Regions from separate parts of the Homo sapiens genome. Here regions 1 and 2 are each linked to region 3. Evidence: fine-mapped expression QTL. A gene starts in region 3. Each other region holds a variant in brackets. All regions are shown on one strand. Distances are from middle to middle.

Region 1 (8,178 bases), 50 kb before region 3:
AGTGTGCTAACTCTTAAAAATAACACAATAAGCTCTTTCCTCAATCACATACTACTTATACGAGGTTTTACTGAATTCCCCTCATTCCCTCCAATTTTCCATTTATCTGTCAATCAGCATATATATAGTAAAGGTATGTTGCTCAAGGTCTCAGCTATGAGATTTCTTGGGTGTCTGTTAGGTTATGGTCCACAATCCACTCTACCCAGATAAAGGTGACTCCAATCTTTCTGCAGGTCCTTTCGTATGTAACTCAAAGCACTTCTCTTGGGGGATGTTTATATCCTAGTAGTCACCTCAGGGACATTCAAGGATGCTCAGTTTCCCAGCTGAAAGAGTTTTCATGAAGGATGTGTGTGTGTGTGTGTGTGTGTGTGTGTGTGTACATGTATACATATATTTGTAAATATATTGATAAATATTATACATATAAATAAATATGTGTATATTCCAGCAACAAACCCTTTATTGTATTACTGTAAATATATAAATTAAACAAAAAAACGATTGAGTGAGGGCCTGTGTACCGGGTGGGCTTCACTCTGCTGGGGCAAGCAATGGGTTATGCCAAGCATGACTGGCTCCCCTCTCTCTAGATGCACTAAGGAGCTTCAAAATACTGCAAAGTTCTGGGGTGATTTGGAAATTCCAGTTTCCAACTCCTATTTTCCATTATAACATATAAATGCTAATCAATTCTGCTTGGAGTTTTTCATTAATTTTAAAGAAGAGCACTATAGATATTAAAGACACTTCTCTGATACACAATTTCCCTTAATTTCCATTACTGTAGAACACAAATCGAATGTAACAAAATTGGCATAAATTTTCAAAAAATCTTTTAACAGTCAACTTTCAAAAACCATATTTTTATTTTGAAAATGTGTGTTCTATTTTTTAACACATAAAACTATAGCTTCCTACAAATATATCATTATTTAGCTGTCATATTTGTTGCAATGAGTATTAACAATAGTTCAAATGTCTTAATCCTCCTTAACTCTTATTAGCTGTGAATAATAGAAAAGCTCCTAACCTAAGTGCTTGTTTTAAACCTGAAAATGGTATGCTTTCTAAAAATTCTAAAGTAAATACAATCATATGTAACACACTGTAAAGTCAGGGCACTTGATTTTCCAGATTGCATGTAAGACAGTATCTTACCACTTTCCATCAGTAGACAGGCAGATACCACATACCACAGCAATCACATACAAACCAATGGACCTGGTAAAGATCACCTTTTATGCTCATCATCTTCTTCGAGGGACACATGCTGATAATTTTCCATACACAGAGATGTAAATAACTCGGGCATACAGATTAACGCCGAGTTTCTATGATTAATTTCCACAGTGCAGGTGGCAGGGCACAAAGTGGAGAGAACACTGAAGGCATTACGCATTTACTTTCAAACTTAATTAAGTAACTTATAAACTGAAAATTTGTATTTTAACACAACTAGATACCAAACTGAGTTCCAAGTAAGGTCTGAATGTCATGAGGAACCTAAAGCAGTCACGTCTGGCCTTCCGTCTCCCGCATGTTTAGGTAAACTGATCCTAGTGCCTTTCTGTAAGGTGAATTTCATAAAGGCAAGAACATACAGTATTAACATATTAAAGTTAATAAAAACATCTCTGTTTTAAAAAATGGTAAGGGAGAACTCAATACTGAAAATGAAAACAACTTGAGATAGTAAAAGAAACAAAAATAGCAGGCGAGAAAACAGAAGATTCTGTTGTCCTAGCAACTATCTTGGACACGATCAGCTTCAAGGAGGGAACGATCAGCTTCAAGGAGGGAACGATCAGCTTCAAGGAGGGAGCACAGTATCTTAACAGCATCTGGCTTCCTTCCATTGAAGAGACTGAACTGGTAAAATAGAAACCAAATCACAGTTTGTCTAATCCAAAGAAGGGCTGTACAGAAATAAAAAGTGACCTGATACAATGTTTAAAACGTGACTTTAAAAAATCAGCAGCCTGTCCTGCACACATTCAGTATTTTCATGAACTTACACAGGGTCAATTCCGGGCACAAAATGAGGAGGGTCGCTAAGGAAAAACATGTTCATATATATTGCTCAGACCCCAGGTACACATGCCCCACTGAAAATGCTGCTTTACTTATTTATTTTTATTTAATTTTAGTTTTTTTGAGATGGAGTCTCACTCTGTTGCCCAGGCTAGAACACAGTGGCAATTCTGGCCCACTGCAACCCCCGCCTCCTGGATTCAAGTGATTCTCATGCCTCAGCCTCCCGAGTAGGTGGGATTACAGGTGCTCGCCACCACGCCTGGCTAATTCTTGTGTTTTTTAGGAAGAGACAGGGTTTCTCCATGTTGGCCAGGCTGATCTCCAACTCCTGACCTCAAGTCATCCGCCCGCCTCAACCTCCCAAAGTGCTGGGATTACAGGCGTGAGCCACTGCACCCAATGAAAACGCTGTTTTAGATGAAAACTTGGATTCCTGAGGCATCAGTGCCCTAGCGCTGGGTGTCGCCTAGAGTGTGGACAGGTGCCTGAGAGCCATCAGGACACTAGCCAGACAAGTGACAAGACAAACACTCCAAGGTCACAGGATCAACAAAACCAAAAATCATAAACCCTTCTATTCATATGAAAATCTAAGATCCACTCTGCTGTGAAAAGGTCTTTCTTTACTCGTCTGTGTACCCATGTCACCAGCATGTTCATCAAATGAGAGTGTGGATGTCCCCTCCAAATCTCATGCTGAGATGTAACTCACAGTGTCAGAGGTGGGGCCTGGTGGGAAGTGTTTGGATCATGCGGGCTGATCCCTCATGAATGGCTTGGGCCATCTCCTTGGTGATGAGTAGGCTCTTACTCTGAGTTCACACAAGACCTGGTCATTTAAAAATATGTGACACTCTACCACCAAAGATCTGGTCATTTAAAAATACGTGACACTCCGCCACCAAAGAGCTGGTCATTTAAAAATATGTGACACTCTGCCACCAAAGATCTGGTCATTTAAAAATATGTGACACTCTGCCACCAAAGATCTGGTCATTTAAAAATATGTGACACTCTGCCACCAAAGAGCTGGTCATTTAAAACTATGTGACACTCTACCACCAAAGAGCTGGTCATTTAAAAATATGTGACACTCCGCCACCAAAGAGCTGGTCATTTAAAAACATGTGACACTCCTCCGCCACCAAAGAGCTGGTCATTTAAAAACATGTGACACTCCTCCGCCACCAAAGAGCTGGTCATTTAAAAATATGTGACAGACACTCCGCCACCAAAGATCTGGTCATTTAAAAATATGTGACACTCCGCCACCAAAGATCTGGTCATTTAAAAATATGTGACACTCTGCCACCAAAGATCTGGTCATTTAAAAATATGTGACACTCTGCTGCCCCATTCTCTTGCTCCTGCCTTATTAGGATGTACCTGCTTCCCCTTTACCGTCTACCATGATTGTAAGTTTCCTGAGGCCTCCCCAGAAGCAGAAGTTGCTATGCTTCCTGTACAGCCTGCAGAACCGTGAGCCAATAAAACCCTCTTAAATAAATTATCCAGTCTCAGACATTTATTTATAGCAATGCGAGAACAGCCTAATACAACCCCCACACCTTAGTCTGTGCATGGTGCTCACCCCAGGGGCCCTGCAAGAAGCAGGGAAATGGGAAGCAGCATGGCCGCCCGGCCACACTTGCCCAAATGTGAGTCCTGCCCTCCCAGAAGCTGCAGGACCTCAGAAAGCCACTGTGTCAAACTGCTCATTTGCAAATGGGAATAAGAATAATAGTGTCTTCTTGTGGCAACAGCATAGTGCCCAGCACACAGAAGGTGCTCGGGGTGACCTGGTATTGTTACCACTGCGATCAGCAGCAGAAGTGGTGCCCTCTTCAGCCTCAGTCTCTCTGCTCTTTCCCCTTCTTGTCAGGTCCTATTCAGCCCATGACACTCCAGCCCCCAGCCCATAATCCTTCCTTCCACCAGCCTCTCCCCACCTCGCAGGCCATGGCTGCCAGATTAATCCTAAGTGCCTCCTGGATCAAGCGTCCACACTTCCTCCCTATTGCCAGCCACCCTCCTGGATCCCAGACCGTCGGTTCTGTATCTCTCGCTGTTCCCAACCAAAGCCACAGCACCAGCCAGGAAAATGTCATCTTAACCATCACTCCACATCATCCATTTAGTAGTCCTACCTTGAGCTCTGGGTCTCTGTTTTAAAATTTATCTGA[T/C]AGGGTTTCTAATAGTCAAGAAGTTACTCTAAATAAAGCCCATAAATCCTCAGTATCTATGAATCTTAAATTCTGGTTCAAATTCCAACATCTCTGACCACCTTTCTTAATCATCCCATCAACGCTGATGAGAAGTTCTTCACACTGCAATTCCAGGCTTGGTTACATAACAATGTGCAATGCCCTCTGACTCTGCTATATTTGAACTCCTCGGGTTAATCTCATGCCTGCTGTAACCCCCACGTGGCTTAGGATGGAAAGTAAGCTCCACGGTCCACCCTGAGACCCTGTGCGATCTCGCCCCACTCGCCACCCTCCCCACCTGTTCTGTCTCCTTTCCCTTCACATCATGGCCCTTGCCGGCCATGCCCTGCAGCCTCCGGCCTTCACAGCCATCCTCCTTCTCCCTCAACTGCCCCCCCCAAGACTCTACTTGGCAAACTCATACCCATCCTGTGAGGTGCGAGTCTTGAGACCCCAGACACAGCAACCTACCGCACATCCCTACCCTCTCACGGGTCCCCACAGCCTCTGGGATTCCATCGCATCATCTGCGCACGTGTCTCTGCCGAGTCTCCAGGGTGTGGAAACTGGGTTGTGTCTCCAGCCCTGGTGCAGTGTCTGGCACTGAGTGCGGTGAAATGGGGGCCAGACGAATGCACAGGGAAGGTGGAGCTCCCGCCGACAGGCTGAACAGCCTTGAGTGTACTGAAGAGTGACAAGGAGGAGCCACAGCAGAAGGCGAGGCGACTCCACCATGCGGAGCCAGAAACTATGAGCTGTGGCAGAGGCTGAGAGCGCTCAGAGTGGCCCTAGGAAGGAGTTCCAGTAAAAAGACATGATTCTCTCAGTAAGAGCAGCTCCCAGAACACTGGCAACTTCTGGGGCACCACTGATTTAGACAACTGCAACCCAAACAGCAGCTGTGCACCTCTTAGAATTACACAAGGGCAAGCAAAGCAAAAATTACAGAACCCCAAGAAGAAAAACGAGTTGGCTGGACCCCTCCCAGACTCAGGTCTTGGTGCCTTTGACTCCATCCAGCCACAGGAAGAGCTGGGAAACCTTCCCCCGCCAAGCAGATCTCCCTAAACTCAGACTGGAAGCCAGGTTCAGGGATAAGGAAACACAGACAAGAGAGACAGCAAGTCTAGAATGGGCAACTGGACCTTCTTCCTAACAGTAACGAAGGCCACTGGACCCCAACTGCCGTCTTCTCGTGTTGTTCAAAGTCACCCATCCATTGGCAGGTGCAGGTGGGCGAGCACAGGCACCTGGGATCCGGAGCCCCATGAGCTGCCACTGCTCCTGCCAGCGTCCCGCCACTGTCCCTGAGTATGGCGTGCTAGGCCCTCTAACTCGCCCCTGACACTGCTCCTGTTTCTGGAGTCCCCATTTAAGGGTGCAGTTGATGGGAAAGAGCAGGCTTCCCAGACACCTAGAAGAGGCAGCCAGGCCCTTCACGCAGGTGAGAGGATTCACAGGGACCTGAACCACTGTGTGGAGATCTGACTCCACGAGTGCTCCACAGCTGGACGACCGTGCCCCTTAAAGGCCAGTCAAGACATCTCCAAAACCAATCTGTTCCAGAGAGACTCATTAGCCATCACATCCAGGATGTTCAACCATGTATATTTATAATGTTAAGCACACAAACTGCTGCTTTCACGCTAGGAGAACGTAAATATGACACATCAAATGGCTGTAATCTACTGTCTGGAACTGGCCCTGTGATGTGAAGAGCACCAGTGGATTTTAATCAAGGAATGAGATGCTTCAATGACAATGGCCAACGTGGTCACTGGGCCTGGTCAACCACCCAGCATGGGTCAGCTGGCTTTCTCAGCTACGCTCGCAGCACCCTGGATGTAGGTTCTGTGCCTCCACTCCACACATGGCCAATCCAACAGAGTGTCTCCCCATGGGAGGAAAGAGCCCTCACCCACCCCTCCAGCCTCCCCTCAGCAGACTAGGTTGGGGTCCTATGAAACAAACAGTGATCTGGCCTGGCCACGCCTGCTTGGTGAACTGGGATCTCTGATGAGCTGAGAGGCCTCCCTGCCTCTGGGATCCCTGCTTGGTGAACTGGGATCTCTGAGGAGCCAAGAGGCCCCCCTGCCTCTGGGATCCCTGCTCCATCAACGGTCCCATTCCTCTCTTGCATCTTTTCCCTCTTTCCACAAGCACTTACCCTTTTGCCTATAAACACACTGAGAATGCCTTAGCCCTTAAAAACAAGACAAAATAACAAGCTATAGAAGATGGAATCTCTAATTCCCACCAGTCTCCTGACACTTCTCTCAAGGTTCACCTATGACCTGGTCATCAACGCAGTATCCTGGGCATGGTCAACCTTCACCACCCCTGACCTTCCTGCGGCCTCTGACAGACACTGAAGCTCCTCTACAGGCTCCTCTGCTGGCGCCCAGGGCCCACACAGTCTGGCCTGCCTCCTAATACTCTGGCGAGCTTGGTCCTCTTCACCAGCTCTTCTTCCTTTCAGCAGAAAGCTCTTCTGACCAACCCCGATTGGATCACTCACAAGCCAGCCTACACAGGACACCAAGTGGCAGGACCTGCTCCCACTGGCCCACAGGCACTTCTGTCCCTCCCACCAAGTGGTATGAGTCAGTGGTCTGTTTCCCAGCAGCGACGCCAGTTGTACTTGTCATTGCAATTGCAAAATTTAATTAAATGTTATGAAAACTACGCGTCTGAAAAGGAAGAGCTGCTGTTCTGTTAAAACTAGGCTGAAACACTTTGGAACCATTTGATGAAGGTGAGTCGCTAAAATAAGGTCTATTGAAATAGGTGTGGGCGAACCACCTGTAGGTGATTTGGGGAAGAATTCTGTCTTCCCACCGTTTGTATGCTTTTTAGAAACCTAAAAAAGGAGTTTCTGCTTATAAAAGAACTTGAGCTCTAATAAAAAAGTATCTTAAAAGACATGGAGCTCTTTTCATGTGAAAGTTAGAATAACGGCTTTGTTTCAATATATAAGCTCCAAACAGATTTCAGAAATTAGCTCAGACACAGGGTGGGCGAGCCTCCCCAGCGTCACACCACTCCCTGAGAAGTGTGCTCCTGTGTAACCCTTTCTGGGCTCATCCATCCATCAGTAAATTAAATTAAACATAAGGGTCAGGAAAAGATCCATGAGGAAGTATGCCTGGGATTCCTAAATTAAAGCCTTTACACCAAAGTTCCTTTGTTACAAACGGCAAATTCCTATCTTAGAACCCCACCCCACAGCCCACCCCACCCAGCTGCCACTACCTGTCTCTATTGTGCTTTATAGTTAGACCCCAGTGCTGGCTGAACTGGCTCCACCCCTCTCCTCCAGTCACACACACAACTCTGCAGGAGAGGCAACACAGCAGAGGCCCAGGGCTCCACCGTCCGGTGAGGAAAGGCCACCACCAGGCCCTCAGCAGCCCGCTCCCCACCCTGCACCTCTTCCCTGACTCCCTCTGCTGGAATCCTTCAGCAATAGTCTGCTTAATTTTGAAAACCTAAAAAGCAAGAAGCAACTTGGCTGGGCAAGGAGGGGCAACAATGCCCCTGTTAAGTGGGGGCTCTCGGGAAAAGAGACAGTGCCTACTCTCAGCGCCCCCGCCCATAGCACCAGCACTCTCACCTGCACCACCAGGACCCTCCCTGACCGCCTTGGCCCTCTGCCTTTGCCCCCACAGTTGATACTCGACGTGGCAAGCAGAGCAACCCTTTAAACCTGAGACCCAGATGATGCCACTCTCTGGCGCACCAACGCCACCACCTCACCAGGAGTACCGCTGAACTGAGGTCCCCGTGGCAGCTGCGGACCCCGGCTGACCTTGGCCTGCTGCCTTTTCAGCTCACTCCCTGCTCAAGCTCACCCCACCCGCATCACACCTCACCATGACGGGCTCTTCTCTAGCTCCAGACCATGTCCACCTGTTCCTGCCTTCCGGGGGGT
Region 2 (8,178 bases), 76 kb before region 3:
ACTGCGCTGAGAATGGGATCCGCTTGCGGACAGGAAGCAGCCCAGAGCCTCACATAATGAGCTGCACCCCCAGACCAGGACAGGAGAGGAGGGCCCCAGGGATTCCGTTCTGAACAGGGAGCCCAGGCTTCCAGGGCAGACGTGTCCCTTGCAGGTTTCCAGAGAGAGGGGCCACACCTTGGCAGCTGTGTGTGTTCGGCCCCTGCTCCAGTGACTTCTCGAAGTCGAGGAAGGATGGCTGCACGCTCCTCCCACTTGCTCCTCCTCAGCCCCAGCTGGGGCTCCGTCACCCTCCTAGGTGGCACCTGGCCACTCAAGCCACTCAAATCCCAGGTGGTCATGAGCCCTGCACTCCATACCACAGCTCCGGCCCCAGCCCCAGCAGACGGGGAGATGGGTGCAGTGATGAGCTGGGAGGGTTTCCGAAGGGTAGTGTGTTACTAGGGGAAGACGTTGTCCCTTGCCACCCTCTGTGGAATTAGCTCGTTAACCCGCATGCTCTGTATGAGGTGCTGGGCCTGCAAACCCCTCAGTGATGCCTCCGGGGCCCTCCCCGCAGGCACTGCGCTCAGAGCCACGGAGTGAGTCTCAAGCCCAAGGGCTCACTGCAATCACAAACACCCCCACACCGTTCAGGTATCCAGGTCAACACTCACGGACGCTACACCTTCTCCAGCCCAGCTCCAGCTCATCTCGATGAATCCCTTTGTTGTCCACATTAAAGCTTTGAGTTCAACGGCTCCTGACGCTGGTGCAGGACCTCCCTGAAGGAGGCAGGACCGAGGTTTTGTCAGGCACGCCTGACATGGATGTGTGCCCAGGTGTGCTAAATGCACTCACTCCCTTTGGTCAGATTTTGGGGAAAGTCAGAGTGAGGCTCCTGCAGGCAGAGAGAAGGCTACAAGCACAAGCTCTGGGGCCAGAGGGCCCCATGCTGGAAATGCCTGCTGTGTGTCTTTGATGTCCTGCCTAACTTCTCTGAACCTCAGGCCGCCTTTGGTGAAATGAGGATAAGGCCACGGCCTCACAGGGTTGGCGGAAGGAGGGAACCCTGCGTGAAGTGCCAGGGCAGTGTCCAGGAGACGGATGCCCAGCCCATGGTGGTGGGTGCTGTGCCTCCCATGGGACTCCTCAGTCCTGAAGCCCGGTGCTCAGCAGGTAGTGTGGGTGGGATCCTGGGTAAGGAGCTGGGATCCAGGCTGCAGTGCAGCCCCTTCCTCATGGGTACAGAATCCCTGGAGGCCTAGGCCAGGCCATCTGGGGCCGTCCCGCCTGCTCACACTGCTTAGACCAAGGCCCTGGACATTATCTGGCAGCAGGCATCCGAGCCTGGGAATACCAAGAAGTCATACCAGGACAGCCCTATACCAATGCAGGTGCCTAAGGCCTACATCCCACACCAACTCCCAGAGCCCCCAGGGACAGAGCTCCTGAGGCCCACAGAGGAAAATGGCTCAGTGACTGTCCTGTGTGCCTGCCTTCTGCACGCCCCGCTGGGCTTCCTGCAGCCACAGCCAAATGCTCGGCCTAAGGAAGAAGCTGGACAAAGACCGGGAGGCAGCTGCTACCAGATACAGACAGGGACAGTCCCTGCCTCACCAGGGCCCAGTAAGCCCCGCCCTCTCTGCGCACCAGACACAGACAGGGACGGCTCCTGACTCTCTGAGGCCCAGAGCAAGCCCCGCCCTCCCCGCCGAGCCCCAGGCCTCCAGGCCCAGGGTCCTGTGAGGGTCCTCCCGGGGCTCCTCTCACACACCGGCCTTCCTGCTGCCGTGAGCTCCTCCATCCACTGAAGGCCTCAAAGACTATGCAACAGGCCAGCCCAGCTCTTGTTGCCAGATGGCAAGAGGGATGAGGGCTCCAGGAAGCACGGGGTGGTGCCTCAACACGCCCACGGCAGCGACATAACCTGTGGCCCCCAGTGCAAGATGAAAACGGGAGGCTCTGGTCCAAAACTTGTTCAGACTTTCAGGACGGCCACAGCTGAACATTAAATCAAGTGTGGGCCCTTCTTGAGCGTGGGCACTGGGTGAACATGGAGGTCACATGTGCATAGGTGGCCCTGCCCTTCAAGCTGGTCTTCCGAGGCCAAGTTAGCCAATTTACATCCTCTGGTGGTGAGGTGGAGGAGGTGAGGTCGGGGGACAAGCTCTGTCGTCACTACAGCTGTTTGAGCAAAAGTCCAGAGGTTCAGTTAACGGCAGCAAGGTTCAGGATTGTGTACAATTCTTAGGGAAATAGCAGCTCATTTCCACCAACACTTAAGAGCTAGAACCTCCTGGGCCCTGCCCACACGTCCGTCCCTCTTCCCAGCCTCAGCCACGCATTCCAGAGACGAAGCCAGGCTGTGCTCCGGACAATGGCCTCCAGGCTGCTCTTCTCCCTTTGGCCCCTCAAGGCCCTGTTCAGAGGCTCCCTGTGGTCTCATTCAAGGCTGCTCTGCAGCTGGGTCCTGAGCCCCCAGGGGACAGAAAGTAACCGACATCTCCACAGCCTCCGCTCCATGAGTGGCGACGGAAAAGTAACAGGCGTTCAAAACATGCACTCACTTGACGTTGTTCAGGGTCTACAGCCCACTGTCCATTTTGCAGCTGTAAGTGGAGTCGCTGGAAAACCCAATGTAAAAAGCAGCAGGCCTGCCCGAGCAAAGCTGCCAAGGCTAAAAGCCCCAGCCATCTTGAAAGCACAAATACACGTCGGTGGGACCCGGATCCTGACTCGAGCCTCCAGCGTTCCAAATACAAGGACAAACTAGGGATTGCAAAGGTGGCTCAGATGCCAGCCTGACGACGCAACTCAGTATGTCCCTTCATCTTCCACAAATCCAGGCCTCCAGTGTCTGGGACAGAAAAAACTAGAGCCAGCCGAGGTGGCCCTCCCTCCTTGGGGACTTCACCAAGCCTCGAGCCATCCTGGCCTAGGCAGGAGCCAGCAGAGGCCTGTGTATTTATTTTGCAGGGAACAGTTCACACAAAGATAAAGCGTGCAGGAGTCCAGAAGAGAAGGCTCTCTACTTCAAATGCAGTGTCTCAGAAGTCACAGGGCACCCCCTTCTGCCCCTGGAGCCCCCAACCCTTCCTTGCTCCCCTGGAGCCCCCAACCCCAAGCTTCCTGCCTTGCAGGCTTTCTCATTGCTTTAACCCCACGAATGCAATGGACACATGTCCCTCTTTGGGACGGACGTATGAGAGCTCATTATGACCAGGATAGTGTCGGGATTTTAAGGTAAAATCAAAGCAAACCAACTGCTGATTGAGCGACTTCTTCCAACACTGATACGGATAGGAGCTTGGGGCAGGAATGAGCACCAGCATTTGTGTCTGAGGAGTGAGATGCACGGCTCGGAGGGCGAAGCGAGTTAGCAATTGTACAGATCAGCTTTAGACATCCAACCCGACTGGACTACAGCTGCCCAGGTATTTGGTCAAACAAGATTTTTGGGGTGTATCTGTGGGGGATGAGATCAGCATGTGACCTGGTGGATTCGGGAAGGCAGGCGGCACTCCCCAGCGTGGGCAGGCATCCTCCAGTCCACTGGGGGTCTGGAAAGAACAGAAAGGTGGTGGAAGAAAGAATTCCCACTCTCTGCCTGTTTTTTGTTTTTTGCTTTTGTTTGTTTGTTTTTTAGAGACAAGGTCTTCTCTGTTGCTCAGGCTGGAGTGCAAACTCCTGGGCTCAAGCAATCCTCCCACCTCAGCCTCCCACATAGCTGGGACAACAGGCGCGTGCCACCACACTTTTACTTTTTGAAGAGACAAGGCCTCATCTATGTTGCCCGGGCTGGTCTCCAACTCAGCCTCAAGCGATCCTCCCACCTCAGCCTCCCAAAGCACTCGGATTACAGGCGCGAGCCACCATACCTGACACTGGCCTGTTGAGGTGGGACATTGGTCTTCCCTTGGACTGGAACTTGCACCACTGGCTCTCCTGGGTCTCCAGCTTGCAGACAGCAGATCTTGGGGCTTCTGAGCCTCCAGAATCCTTGTAACTGTCTCCATATCTGTTCATCCTGTGGGTCCTGGTCTCAGGAGAGCCCTGACTGAGCCTGAACCTGGACTCACCACATTCCATCTGGGAGACTGGGGAGGTCCCACCCTAGAGCCTATTTTCTTACGTACATAATGGGAGAAAAATCAGGCCGTCCCCACCTGCAGCCAAGCTTGCTGTGAGAATCTAGGGAGGGGGCACACCTCAGAGTGGGCTCACGAAGTGGTGGCAGAGATTTAGAAAGGTTTCCAGTCCTTATAGCCCCTCCGCCCCATGCTGTG[T/G]GGCTTTGGTCCACCCTCAGCAGTACAGGCTGGCCCTGTTATAAAGAAGCTGAGATGATGCATCTCCTACAGCCAGACGGCTGCCCACCACTCACAGCTTCCTCAGGGATCCCTCAGGCCCCCGAGTCCTTGAGCGGGCAAGAGGTCTCCTGTGGGCATGCCTTGGCCCAAGCAGGAGGCTCAGGGCTCCCGACCCACCACCTTCTTTTTCAGACGGCTCCAGTCCACCAAGCTGCCCCCTCGGGGCATGACCTTTGGAAATCTGAGGAACGGTTCCTCCTTGCTCCCCGAAGACTCTGTTTTTAGGCATCTGAAGTGTAGATGTAAACATTGACCTTTCCCACTTGTGTTTAGACCTGGTGTCCTCGGTGTAAGGACCCCACACACGGATGAGAGCTCATTATGACCAGGATAGCGTCAGGATTTTAAGGTAAAATCAAAGCAAACCAACTGCTGATTGAGCGGCTTCTTCCAACACTGGTACGGATAGGAGCTTGGGGCGGTGTAAGGGCCTGTGCATGTCACATGGCCACCACGTGCAGGTGAGTGGCAGCCGCACGCCTGTCTGTCCCCGTGGTCGGCTGTGCAGACCCCTGCTCGTGCCTGCAGCTTCATCCCAGTGTCACAGAAACACCACACAGCTCCATTCTGTGATTCAAGTAGGTGCCTGTCTAGTTGTGTGACACTGTCCAACAATTACGGGGCAATTGTTCCCACTGCTCCCATGACTGCTTCAAAGAGGTTTCAAGTCAGCGTCCCACTGGCCACCTGCTGGCCAGGGCTTCCAGTACGTTCCGCTTCAGCCCCTCGTTCCTTTGTCAGGTAGTTGCTGAGCCTGGAAGGAGTGCAGAAGGGCCCTGCTTCAGAGGATTATTGGCTTTTGAAGTGAAAAACCCTAAAACAATGCTGACACTTCCCGTTTCAGTCTCATCTCTGAGTCTGGATTTTCACTGGGGCTCTGGGGCCCTTTCCAGCAAACATCTGACCACAAGACATCAGAAGGAGAGGCTACTATTGAGACAGGGAACCCTGCAGCGATGGGACCCGGGGTGCCCACAGGGCGTGCGGGAGGGGCCTCGGGAGGGCCACACGCTCCTGTGCTGCTGCCCTGGAGACAGGGACAATGGCTGCGTCAGCCACCCGTGGGTTACAGAGGACAGCAGGGGGAGAGACGCAGACATTGATGACTGAGTCGTCGAAGGTGGTTGAGATTGGGAAGAAAGTGGGGCCAGGGTCTAACGAGGCCGTTTCTCTTGTGTTCTCAGGCCTCACTTCTGAGCCTCCATAAAAGAAAAAATGCCCGTGCTGGGCAGCCGTGTCCCAGGGATGCCTGGTCAGGGTCCTCCTCTCGCCACACCCTCCCTGGGTCCCCTCAGCACCCAGTACAGGATGTGCCGGACACTGAGAAGCAGCTATGATGGAGGGGCGGCAGGCTTGGTCACAGCCGGGCGTGGAGAGTCAGGCATCTTTAAAAAACAGGGTCTAGGAAGACTCTAATGGCAAGTAAAAGAAAATGTATATAACTCTAAAGCTATCTTCCTTGTTCATTCCTAAAATTCCTAAATTTTCAGAAGTGATCATAAAGTATTTGTGTAACTAAAAAGGGGAAACAAGCCAGAGGGGTTCCCAGGCCTGGTCCCAACGGCACACCGAGGCCTCCGGCCTGGCCATGCCCTGGGCAGCGGGAAGGACAGTGGGACCCAGGAACACGAGGGCCCTGCTGACGCCTGCCCAGGCTCCTGCCTGGCTCTGTCCCTCTCGAGACCTGAGATGGTGCATGCCCTTTGGTCTCTTTCCCTCGGTAGGTGCTGTGGCATGGGTCCTGGGGTGTGGGCCGGCAGGGGCCAAAGGCTGCTGCCTGAAGTCCCACACCCACTAGAGGTCTGCACAGGAGCCGCCTGTGAGCCCACGGGATGAACCAGCAACACATGTGCCACACCTGCTCGCAGAGGGCAGACAGCCTGGCTGCGTCCTGGAATGGGGGCTTGGTGGGGCAGACCTGCAAGCCCAGGGAGAGGAAAGGCTGCATGAAGGACTGGGTGGTGAGGAGGGGGGCGCAGGGAGGGGGCTGGCAGGGTGGGGGCCAAAGCACAAAGGGCTCTGAAGGCAGAGTGGGGAGGGGGGCCCAGGAGAAAGGAGCAGACCTCCTGGGCAGAGATGAGGATGCTGTTGTCTGTGGAAGGTGAAGAGTTCAGGAGGCCAGCACTGTGCAGCCCGCAGCAAACCCACCCCCACTGGCCGGCAGGGCCCCAACTGTGCGGCTTGAGGCTTTCCTTGGCAGCCGGTGGGCACTCACCTGCAGGCCCCATCACAAGATCTGTAGGTGGGAAGAGCTTCTGAGCACCAACAGCTTCCAGGTACCCCTGTAGGGGTTTTTCTGGGTTTTTTGAACTTCCACGATGGACAAAGCAGCCTCCCCTCTCTTCCTCCCAGAGGCCTCCCTCCCCTGGATGGGCAACCCTGTGCCAGACATGGCTATGGAGACCACCTGTCACCACACATGGGACAGCCTATGTCCACCTCTCCCCACGGTGTGCACCACATGGGGACAGGGATGGGCCTGGGCCTGGGCCAGGGCCCCGGAGGGGTGCAGCCAGCCCACGGCAGACGCGAGGCTCTGCTGACCAAGCTGGCAAGGCAGGGCTGCTCACAGCTGCCAGAAAACGCAAGGCACAGCTGCCGACGCCAGCCCCGCTGCTCCACGCCTTCTCTGAGGCAGAAGGCCCATCTCTGTGGTGGGTGAGACCCTCCTCTCCAGCCACGTGGGAGGTAAGAAGAAGCTGAAGGGCCACCCAGAGCAGGGCCTGTGGCTGCCAGTCTCCACAGGGCCTTCTTGTCGGCCCAAGGTGGGGACTGTGGTGCACAGAACAGGGCCCCAAGGACAGCCGCATCCTGATCCCCAGCTCCTGGGACATGGGACCTCGGGTGGCAAAGGGGCTGAGCAAATGGGGTTGAAGATCTTGATGGGGGGTTTCCTGGACTGAGTGGCCCAATGTCATCACAGGGGTTCTTGCACAAGGGAGGCAGCAGGGGCCAGCAGAGAGGAGAGGTGACTAGAGGAGGGGTCACAAGACCATATACGCAGGCAGCCTCTAGAAGCTGGGAAGGCCAGGAAACCAGGAAAGCTGGGAAGGCCAGGAGCCTGCAGGAGGGACCAGCCCTGCTGACACCTTGATTGGAGGCCTCCTGGCCTCCAGAACTTAGGATAATAGATCTGTGCTGCTTTAGCCGCAAAGTGCAAGGCAGCTGCTTACCGCAGCCCTAGGAAACTGCTCCGCGTTGATCTGGGCTCAGCCCCAGGGAGGGGTGCCTGCCGGGTGACCTGAGCATGGTGGTGCATGAGGCAATCAGAAACAGGAGGGTTTCTCACCCTGCAGGAGGAGCACTCGGTGTCTTCTCCGAACCTCCTACAGCTCTGGACACTCACAGTTTGCTCTCAAGTCCCCCACCTTAGTTCCACTCCCCTTCCACCACCTCCTGTGCCCTCTTAGGTGGGAAAACGCAACAGGCACCGCGAACGTAAGTAGCGGCTTGCCCCAACCACAGGCAGCCAGGCAGAGGCTTGTCCTTAAAAGGCTGGAGGCTTCAAGGCTGTGACCATGTGGAGACAGCACAGCCAACACAGGCTCCTTCAGGAACTGCAAACTTAAAATAGACTCCGCTTCCAAACCCACACACTGGCGTCTCTCCAGGAAGAGCGAGGTGGAGGACGCCCCCGCCGCCTCAGGGCTGTGACAGTGGGGAGTGGGTTCCACCTGCTGGGCTGGGCTAGGCTGAGTGACCGACCGCCTCGGGGCTGTGAAAGTGGGTTCCCCCTGCCGGGACCGCTGAGTGACCACCCCAGGACTGTGAGAGTGGGTTCCCCCTGACGGTCAGGCTGTGACTGCCTCAGGGCTGTGAGACTGGGTGC
Region 3 (8,178 bases):
GCTCCCTGTAACCACAGGAGCCCCCTCTAGCGGGCAGCTGCTGTCATGCAGGTGCTACAGAAAGGTACAATGGACACTCAGCTGCACCAGGAGTCAGGAAGGGGCTCTAACCTTGGCTTTGGGACCCAGCTATGTGGCATCTGCTCACTCAGGAGTACACCCATCTGTGAGTGAGTACCATCCTCGGCTCTATTTCAGAGGCTGTCACAAAGTTCAAACACGACAGTTTATGTGGAAGTGCCCTGCTTACACTGCCCACATAAAATTCCAATTCAAATTGACAACCAGCATGGATTTTCACAAATTTTCCAAACATAAAAGATTAAAAACAGCTTTTTCTTGTTTCGTTTTATAAAACAGCTTTTTCAATAAACAAAAATGTGAAATACCCACCTTAGGCCCAATTATTAAATATTTAATATTATTTAATATTAATATTGAAGAAAAACCAGTGAAATAAGCAACCATATATCTGAGAAAAAGGTATCATTCTGTGTAACATAAAATCATACCTAGTTTCTCTGCTATTTCTTTTGCAAGTTTGCCTTTTCCAGTACATATATTGCCATCTACAGTTATCACTCTGCTGCGTTCTGTCAGTCTTTTGCTTGCTTTATCCCCAAGTAGGAAATGCCACATTCCATAGCGCAGTTTGCACTGCACACTGCTATGAATTCCTCTCTGAAAAACACAAAATCACACAGCAGCACATTGTGACCACTCTGGTTCCTGTAGGCATTAGTAACTATTAGGTAAAAATACCAAGAAACCTCTTAGTGATAAAAATGCCAACATCTACATCTTTATTGCCTATTAATTTGTTTAATTATCTGTCTATCCCCCACCACTCTGTCCATGTAAGTTTCGTTAAAGGCAGATATACTGTCTGTTTGTTCACTGCTAAATCCTCAGGCCCTGGAACAATGCCTGAAATTTTTATTAAATATGTTTACTATGTTCAATAAAAATTGGAGGGAGGGAGGGAGGGGTGGATGGATGGATGGATGGACGGACAGACGGGAGGAAGAAAGACAGGGATGGAGGGAAGCTCAGGAGTGAAGGGAAGGGAATAAAAAACATTTCTCTAATCCAAGCTTCTGTCCCCATGTCCTGACCTCGTTACCCCACTGCCTATTAAACAGCTCCACCTAGATGTCCTGAAGGCACCTGAAGGTAACAGAGCTAAGGTGAAATGCAACATCCATATCCTAGCCCCCAAGTCTGCTTTCCCTCACAGCAAGGAATATCCACTACCTAACAAGCAAAAGAGAGCAAATTTGAGTGTCGTCTTTGATACCTTTCTCCTTCCTTCAACTGCAGAATTACACACAAAATCCTAACTGTTCAGACTCTCTGGACACTGCATCGCCTCCCTATGCCATGTGCTGACTCTGTCGGCACCCTCACACCTCTCATCTACAAGGCAAAGACCTGCTTCAATGCCTGTCTCCAGCAGCCCAATTTACTCTCCACACTAAAGTGGGAACATTCCTTCCAAAAAAAGAAAAGAAACATAACCAAAAGTAAAACAAACTGAAGAAGTTCAACAGATATGATGGGGTAATAACCTTACTATATACAGAAATTGTACAGAACAATAAGAAAACAAAGAATAAAAACACACAGCTTATTTTAAAATTATAAAATATAGCCAAAAACCACATGAAAAAGTGGTCAACCTTGCTACAAAAAAACAAAAGACTATTAACAAGGAAACATTAGTTTTTCATGTGTCAAAATGAGAAATAATTTAAAAAATGATTACAGAGTTAGGACAAGACAATGAGTACCATCCTAAACTGCTAATGGTAATGAAACCTAGAGGACGCTGGGTCTACAGCATTAGGAATCCATTCAAAGAGTATATACATAAGATTGACCTATAAGGATGCTCAATGAAGTATGATGTAACACCAAAAATGCAAATAGAAACCCTTAAATGTCCAACAACGGAGGAATAGTTAAACAAAATTAAGGCATATCCATATTATGGAATACTAAGTACTCAGAAAAACACAAAAATATTAAAATACTTTATAGTGAAATTTAAATAAAACAGGAGAATATGAAATATCAAGATATTTTTCGATCTTGATTTGATAACTGAAGAGTAAGGAAGAAACAAGTTACAAAACAAGGCAAAGCAGACAACCCAATTTAAAAATGGGCAAAAGATGTAAACACCTCTCGCAAATGAAATTAACGCAGATAGCAAATAAGTATATGAAAAGATGAACACTGTATATCATGAGATATTCCAAAGTTGAAACAAGATACCACTACGCAGCTATCAGAATGGATAGCAATCCAAAGTAACCGACAGCCCCGCATGCTGGCGAGCACGCAGAGCAACAAGGAGAGCCTTCACTTCTGGTGGGAGTCAAATGGCACAGTCACTCTGGAAGATGGCTTGGCAGCTTCTTAGAAAACTAGTCTTACTACATGAGTAATCGCTCTTCCAGGTATTACCCAAATGATATAAAAATGTATTTCCAAAAAGAAATCTGCATGTACACGATTACAGCAGCTTTATTCATAATTGCCAAAAACTTGAAGCAACCAAGATGCCCTTCAATTGCTGAATGAATTGAAGTACATCCATGCAATGAGATATTACTCAGTGATTAAAAAGAAATGAGTTACCAAGCCACGAAGACATAAGTGAATCTTACATAGATATTTCCAAGTATTCAAGGCGTCTGAAAAGGCAATATATTGTATGATTCTAATTATATGACATTCCAGAAAAGGCAACTATGGAAATGTTAATGAGATCTGTGGTTGTCAGGGGTTGGAGAAAAAGAAGGGTTTAATAGGTAAAGCAGAGGGGAATTTTTTAAGGCAGTGAAGCTACTCTGTACGAACCTATAATGGTGGAGACATGCTATTACACACGTGTCAAAACCTATAGAACCTTATAGCACAAAGAAAAAATCCATAGAACCTTATAGCACAAAGAATGCGCTCAATGTATGCACATTTTAAAAAACGCATTAGGTAGAAGGATCCCAAGATGTAAGGCAGAATGTGACAAAGCAATCCAACTGTGTTACAAATGTATGAAACGATTTCACTGAAGAAGGTGGGGGCAAAATGCTAAGAAATGAGAGTAGTCAGTCAGAGTAAAGGCAAAAGGAAGCGGACACAAGCACTGAACTCCGTGTCTGCTCAACATGGCATCACCCAAGCACCCAGCAGGGCCCGACCTTTAAACGGCTCTTGACAGGGCTGCTACGTGAATTATCTAATGACAAGCGCGTGTGCCCCCGGCCTGCCACCTGCACACGGGCCTCCCGCATCAGGGCAGCCTCGGGGCCCTGATCACCTCCGCGCTCCAGCGTTTTGCTTAAAGCTGAGATAAAATGGCCTGGAGAAGCTCGTGGCCCCCTGAGGTCTGTCCACGACCAAAGACCAAACAATTCCGGAGGCAGGAGGGGTCCCCCAAACCCACCCGGAGAGCGACCTGGGAGCCGCCGCCAGAGGCCGGGGGAGATGTGGAACTGCTCCCCACCCCGCCACCCCGCCACCCTGCCACCCCGCCACCCTGCCACCCCGCCGCCCGCTCACCACGCGCTGGGCGCCCGCCGCCACGACCCGGGCGGACGCGGACGTCGCTGCCAGCTTCAGGAGCCGCAAGGCCATGGCTACCCGGTCAGCTCAGGATCAAGGACCCAAGGGGACGCGGTCGCGACGGGGCCCTCTCTCGCGGCCGGCGCGCTGCCGTGACGTCACGGCCGGGGTGCCCGCGGCGCCTGTCGGGAACCTTCCAGGGGGCGGGGCCGCGCCGAGGCCCTCGGGGGCTTCCGCGGAGACAGCCAGTGCGCTGCCAGGGTCCTGCGGGTTGGGGCGAGGGCCGAGAGGTGGGAGTTGGAGGTGAACGTGGGGGCAGCATGCTGGCTGCCCGGCCCCTGCCTGGGTTCTGAGTTGCTGCGGTGTCGCGGGAGCTGAGGCCGCCCAGGGCGTGGAGCGACTTCTGCGTCTCGTCCCAGGGTCCTGTGCTCCCCGCAGAATCCCCCAGGCGCGGTGTGGACGTCAAAGCGACCTCCTAGAGAACATTCCTAGCTCTCAGAACGTTCTCGCTGGGGAGGGAAAGTGGAAAAAGAGGGGGCGAGGAGCGGAGGGACGGGGTGGGACCCCTGTCGCGGGGCGCCTGTCAGGGAGAGGGACCTGGCAAGGCCGGCCTGGGTCGCCTCCGGAGCTGAAGGCTAAGTGGTCTCATCCAGGGGACCTGCTGTGAACACATTGAATAGCATAGAAAACAAAAGCACACGCTCCAAGTCCATCTCTTTTTTTTTTTTTTTTTTTTTTTTTTTTTTTTTTTTTTTTTGAGGCAGAGTCCCGCTCTGTCGCCCAGGCTGGAGTGCGGTGGCGCCATCGCGCTCACTGCAAGCTCCGCCTCCCTGGTTCACGCCATTCTCCTGCCTCAGCCTCCCGAGTAGCTGGGACTACAGGCGCCCGCCGCCACACCCGGCTAATTTTTTGTATTTTTAGTAGAGACGGGGTTTCACCATGTTAGCCAGGATGGTCTCGATCTCCTGACCTCGTGATCCACCCGCCTCGGCCTCCCAAAGTGCTAGGATTACAGGCGTGAGCCACCGCGCCGGCAAGTCCATCTCTTAAAATGTGCTCCCGTCAGGACCTGGGCTCTGGGCTCCACGAAGGAGCCTTGCATGTGAGGTTTCCTTCCAAGTATGCCTGCTGTTGGGAAGGGTTTTTATAATCTTTTGTGTTCCCCAGGCTTTTTGTTCTTAACCCCTTAAATATTCTTTAACTTTGTTTTCAACTTTTCAGAAATGATCATGCGATTGTAAAACAGTGGGAATGCAGCTGTGTAAACTACGGCCGGTTCTATGGATGTTTCTATAATTGAAGAATTGCTTTTTGTCAAAAATACGGATTCCCGGTCCCCAACGCAGGAGGGTCTGGTTTTTAGATCCTGGAGGGCACCTGAAATCCATTTAACAAGCTTTAGGGTTCATGTCTGCTGTTTTTTGCCTTGTTTCCTTTGCATTTTTTTTTTTTTTTTTTTTTTGTGCCTTCCAATGGATACAGTACATTTTTTTAGAATTCCATCTTGATTTACTGATAATGTCTTGGGAAATATCATTATGTATAGTTTTCGTAGTGGTTCCTCTAGGTATCACAGCACGCAGACGTAACTTCTCACAACCTGTTTGCGTGGATGTTTTGTTGTACCTGAGCGAGTTAGAAAAACACCACCTTTGAGACGAATTAAGAGTCCTTTATTAGCTGGCGACCGAGAGACGGCTAACGCTCAAAATTCTCTCAGCCCCGAGGAAGGGGCTTGATTAACTTTTATACCTTGGTTTAGGAAGGGGGGGGGGTCTAGTTAAAACAATTTTACAGAAGTAAAGTAGTCAAAAAGTTAAAAGGGTAAATGGTTACAGGAAAGTAAACAGTTCAAGGTGCAGGGGCTTTAAGACTATTACAAGATGATAGACCCGGGGCTTTGGGCGTTATCAATCGGACAAATTCCTGGGAACTGCGGATGTAGCTTGCCACAGTATCTTACCAGTTAATTGCATTCTTGGATGTGGTGGGAGTCAGCCTGCACAAGTTAAGTCCTTGAGAAAGGGGCTGCCAGTGAAAGAGCCAAGATGGAGTCTGTCTGGCTCTCTTAGCTAAGGGAGAGTCAATTCAGGTGGAAACAGGGCTAGGTGATTAAAGGAAAAGGGAGAGTCTGAAAACAGTTAGTAAAAACCAGGTTGGGCATTACAGTTTTACTGGTTCAAGGGAAGTATTACTATATACTTCCCCGTCCCTCCGCTTCTCGCCCCCCTTTTTCCGTTTTCCCTCCCCAGCTAGAACGTTCTGAGAGCTAGGAATGTTCTCTAGGAGGTCGCTTTGACGTCCACACTATATTAGACAGCATGAAAATAACTTCAGACCCCAATAGACCAATATCTCTCGTGAACTTAGACACAAAAATCCTTAACGAAATGTTAGCAAATTGAATCCAACACTATATGAAATGAATCATACACCACAACCCAAGGTGGTTTATTCAGAAGATGCAAGGCTAATCTGGTATTTGAAAATCAACCAATGTAATACACCTTACCAGCAGGTGAAAGACGAAATCTATGACCAGATTGCCTGATGCAGTTTTCTGCATCACTTGACAAAATTAAATACTCATTTATGATAAAAACAAAAACTGCTCTCAGCAAATAAGGACTAAAGGGGAGCTGCTTCAGCTTGATAAAGCACATGCGTGAAAACTCTGCATCATTGTACTTAATCATGAAAGACTGAATGCTTGCCTTCTAAGGAGGAAACAAGGCAAGGATATCTGCTCTGCCCACTCTTATTCAACAGAGCACTGGAAGTTCTAGTAATAGGCCATGCAGTATGGCAAAAAATAAAAAATGAAATTCATACAGATCAGAAAGGAAGAAATAAAACTGTCTATTTTTAGTTGACATGACTGTTCACATAGAAAACCCAAAGGAATCTACAAAAACCTCCTGGAACTAATGAGTGAGCGCAGCAAGTTTGCAGGCTGCAATGTCAACATATGAAAATCAGCTGCATCCTATGTACTAACAACAAACAGAAGGAAACTGAAATAAAAGATGGAATACCATTTACAGTTGCTTCAAAGAAAATATAATATTTAGGTCTAAATCCAGCAAAACACACACAGAATCTGCATATTAAAAAGTACAAAACACTGATTTAAAGAATGAAGACCTCAATAATTGGAGGGGTTTACTATGTTCATGGATTGAAAGACTCAACAGAGTAATGAAGTCAGTTCTTCCCAAATTGATTTTTAGGTTTAATGGAATTTCTAGCAAAATCTCAGCGAGGTTCTCTTGTAGACATTGACAGGCTTACTATAAAATTTATATAAAAATATAAAGGCTGTACAATAGCCACAATAATTTTGAAGCAGAAGAATAAAGTGGGAGGAGTCACTCTTCCAGTGTTAAGATTTACTACATAATCATATAAATCAAGACTGTGTTGTATGGATGGAGGGTGTGATATTGATAGATACGTAGATCAATTTAACAGAACAGAGGATCCAGAAATAAGCCAGCACAAATATTCTCAACTGACGCAGTAGTGCACCACACAATGACATTTGGTGAATGATGAACTGAACGGCACATAAGATGGTGGTCCCATAAGATTATGACATTATATTTTGACTTACCTTATCTGTGTTTAGATGCATAAATTATGGATGAGCACAGTGGCTCACACCTGCTGGGACAGGTGGGACAGGGTTTCACCCAGCATAATGTATTATGTATATATAATACACAATACAGTATATGCATTATCCCAGTATATGTATTATCCCAGTATGAATGTATTATGCATTGTGTATTATACAGTATAAATGTATTATTTATTATGAATATTGGATAGCAATGAGAATGCATGAATTATTGTTACATGCAAAAACATCAAGGATTCACTCAAGCAACACGGTGAATGAAAGAAGCTGAACATAACAGGGCACATACTTTATGTGTAAGCCCCTCAGAAACACCAATGCTAGCATCTGGTTTTGGAAGTCAGGACAGTGCTTTTTGTGGAGAAGGGTTAATGACTGGGAGAGGGCGTGAAGGCAGCTTCTAGTTCTTGATCTGGGAGCTGGTTCCATGAGCACAGTCCTTTTGTGAAAACATATGCAGACGAAGGCTTGTTACTTGTGCACAGTTGTGTAGGTTTGTTAAATTTCACTTAGTTCTGTAGGTTTGTTAAATTTAACTTAAAAATTAATTTAAAGAGCACAAAGTGCCACATACAATGTTGTTTCATCACTACAGATTTTACTCTAGGACATTTAGTTGTCTTAGTGTGAAGTTTGACCCAAGCCCAAGGCCTTTTTCAAGGCGTCCTTAAATTCCTTGTTCCTCAGGCAGTAAATCAAAGGGTTAATTATTGGCGTGACAACAGTGTACACGGCAGAGATGAGCTTGTTGGAGCTCTGGGAATCAATGGCTTGGGGCCGGACATACATGAAAAGCAAGGCTGTATAGAAGACGGTGACCACGGTGAGGTGAGAGGCGCAGGTAGAGAAGGCTCTCCAGCAGCCGGTGGCCGAGGGGATGCGCAGGACAGCCAGGGTGATGTGCCAATATGACAGTATGGTGGCCAGGAGCGGAAACACCAGGATGATGAAGGCCAGGATGAAATCCA

Evidence for each region. PIP is the estimated chance that this variant, and not a neighbour inherited with it, causes the effect.
Region 1: its variant is fine-mapped to the expression of NDUFA10 in monocytes (TOPMed, PIP 0.96).
Region 2: its variant is fine-mapped to the expression of NDUFA10 in tibial nerve (GTEx, PIP 0.99).

Annotation. Positions count from the first base shown.
Region 1 is chr2:239,971,787-239,979,964 of GRCh38, forward strand. All of the region lies in intron 9 of NDUFA10 (NADH:ubiquinone oxidoreductase subunit A10), which reads right to left. Among named protein-coding and RNA genes, the nearest start is that of MIR4786, 33 kb to the left of the region's middle. The variant T/C (reference allele first, on the strand shown) is at 4,224.
Region 2 is chr2:239,945,916-239,954,093 of GRCh38, forward strand. It overlaps a transcript of NDUFA10 not described here. Among named protein-coding and RNA genes, the nearest start is that of MIR4786, 6.9 kb to the left of the region's middle. RefSeq lists enhancers at 1-742, 5,241-5,740. The variant T/G (reference allele first, on the strand shown) is at 4,269.
Region 3 is chr2:240,021,660-240,029,837 of GRCh38, forward strand. NDUFA10 (NADH:ubiquinone oxidoreductase subunit A10) reads right to left here and starts at 3,683. Exons shown (of 10, transcript NM_004544.4): 1 at 3,568-3,683; 2 at 513-681. The coding sequence starts at 3,642. OR6B2 (olfactory receptor family 6 subfamily B member 2) reads right to left here. Exons shown (of 1, transcript NM_001005853.1): 1 at 7,832-8,178. The coding sequence ends at 7,832. RefSeq lists a silencer at 3,610-3,869 and an enhancer at 3,678-4,507.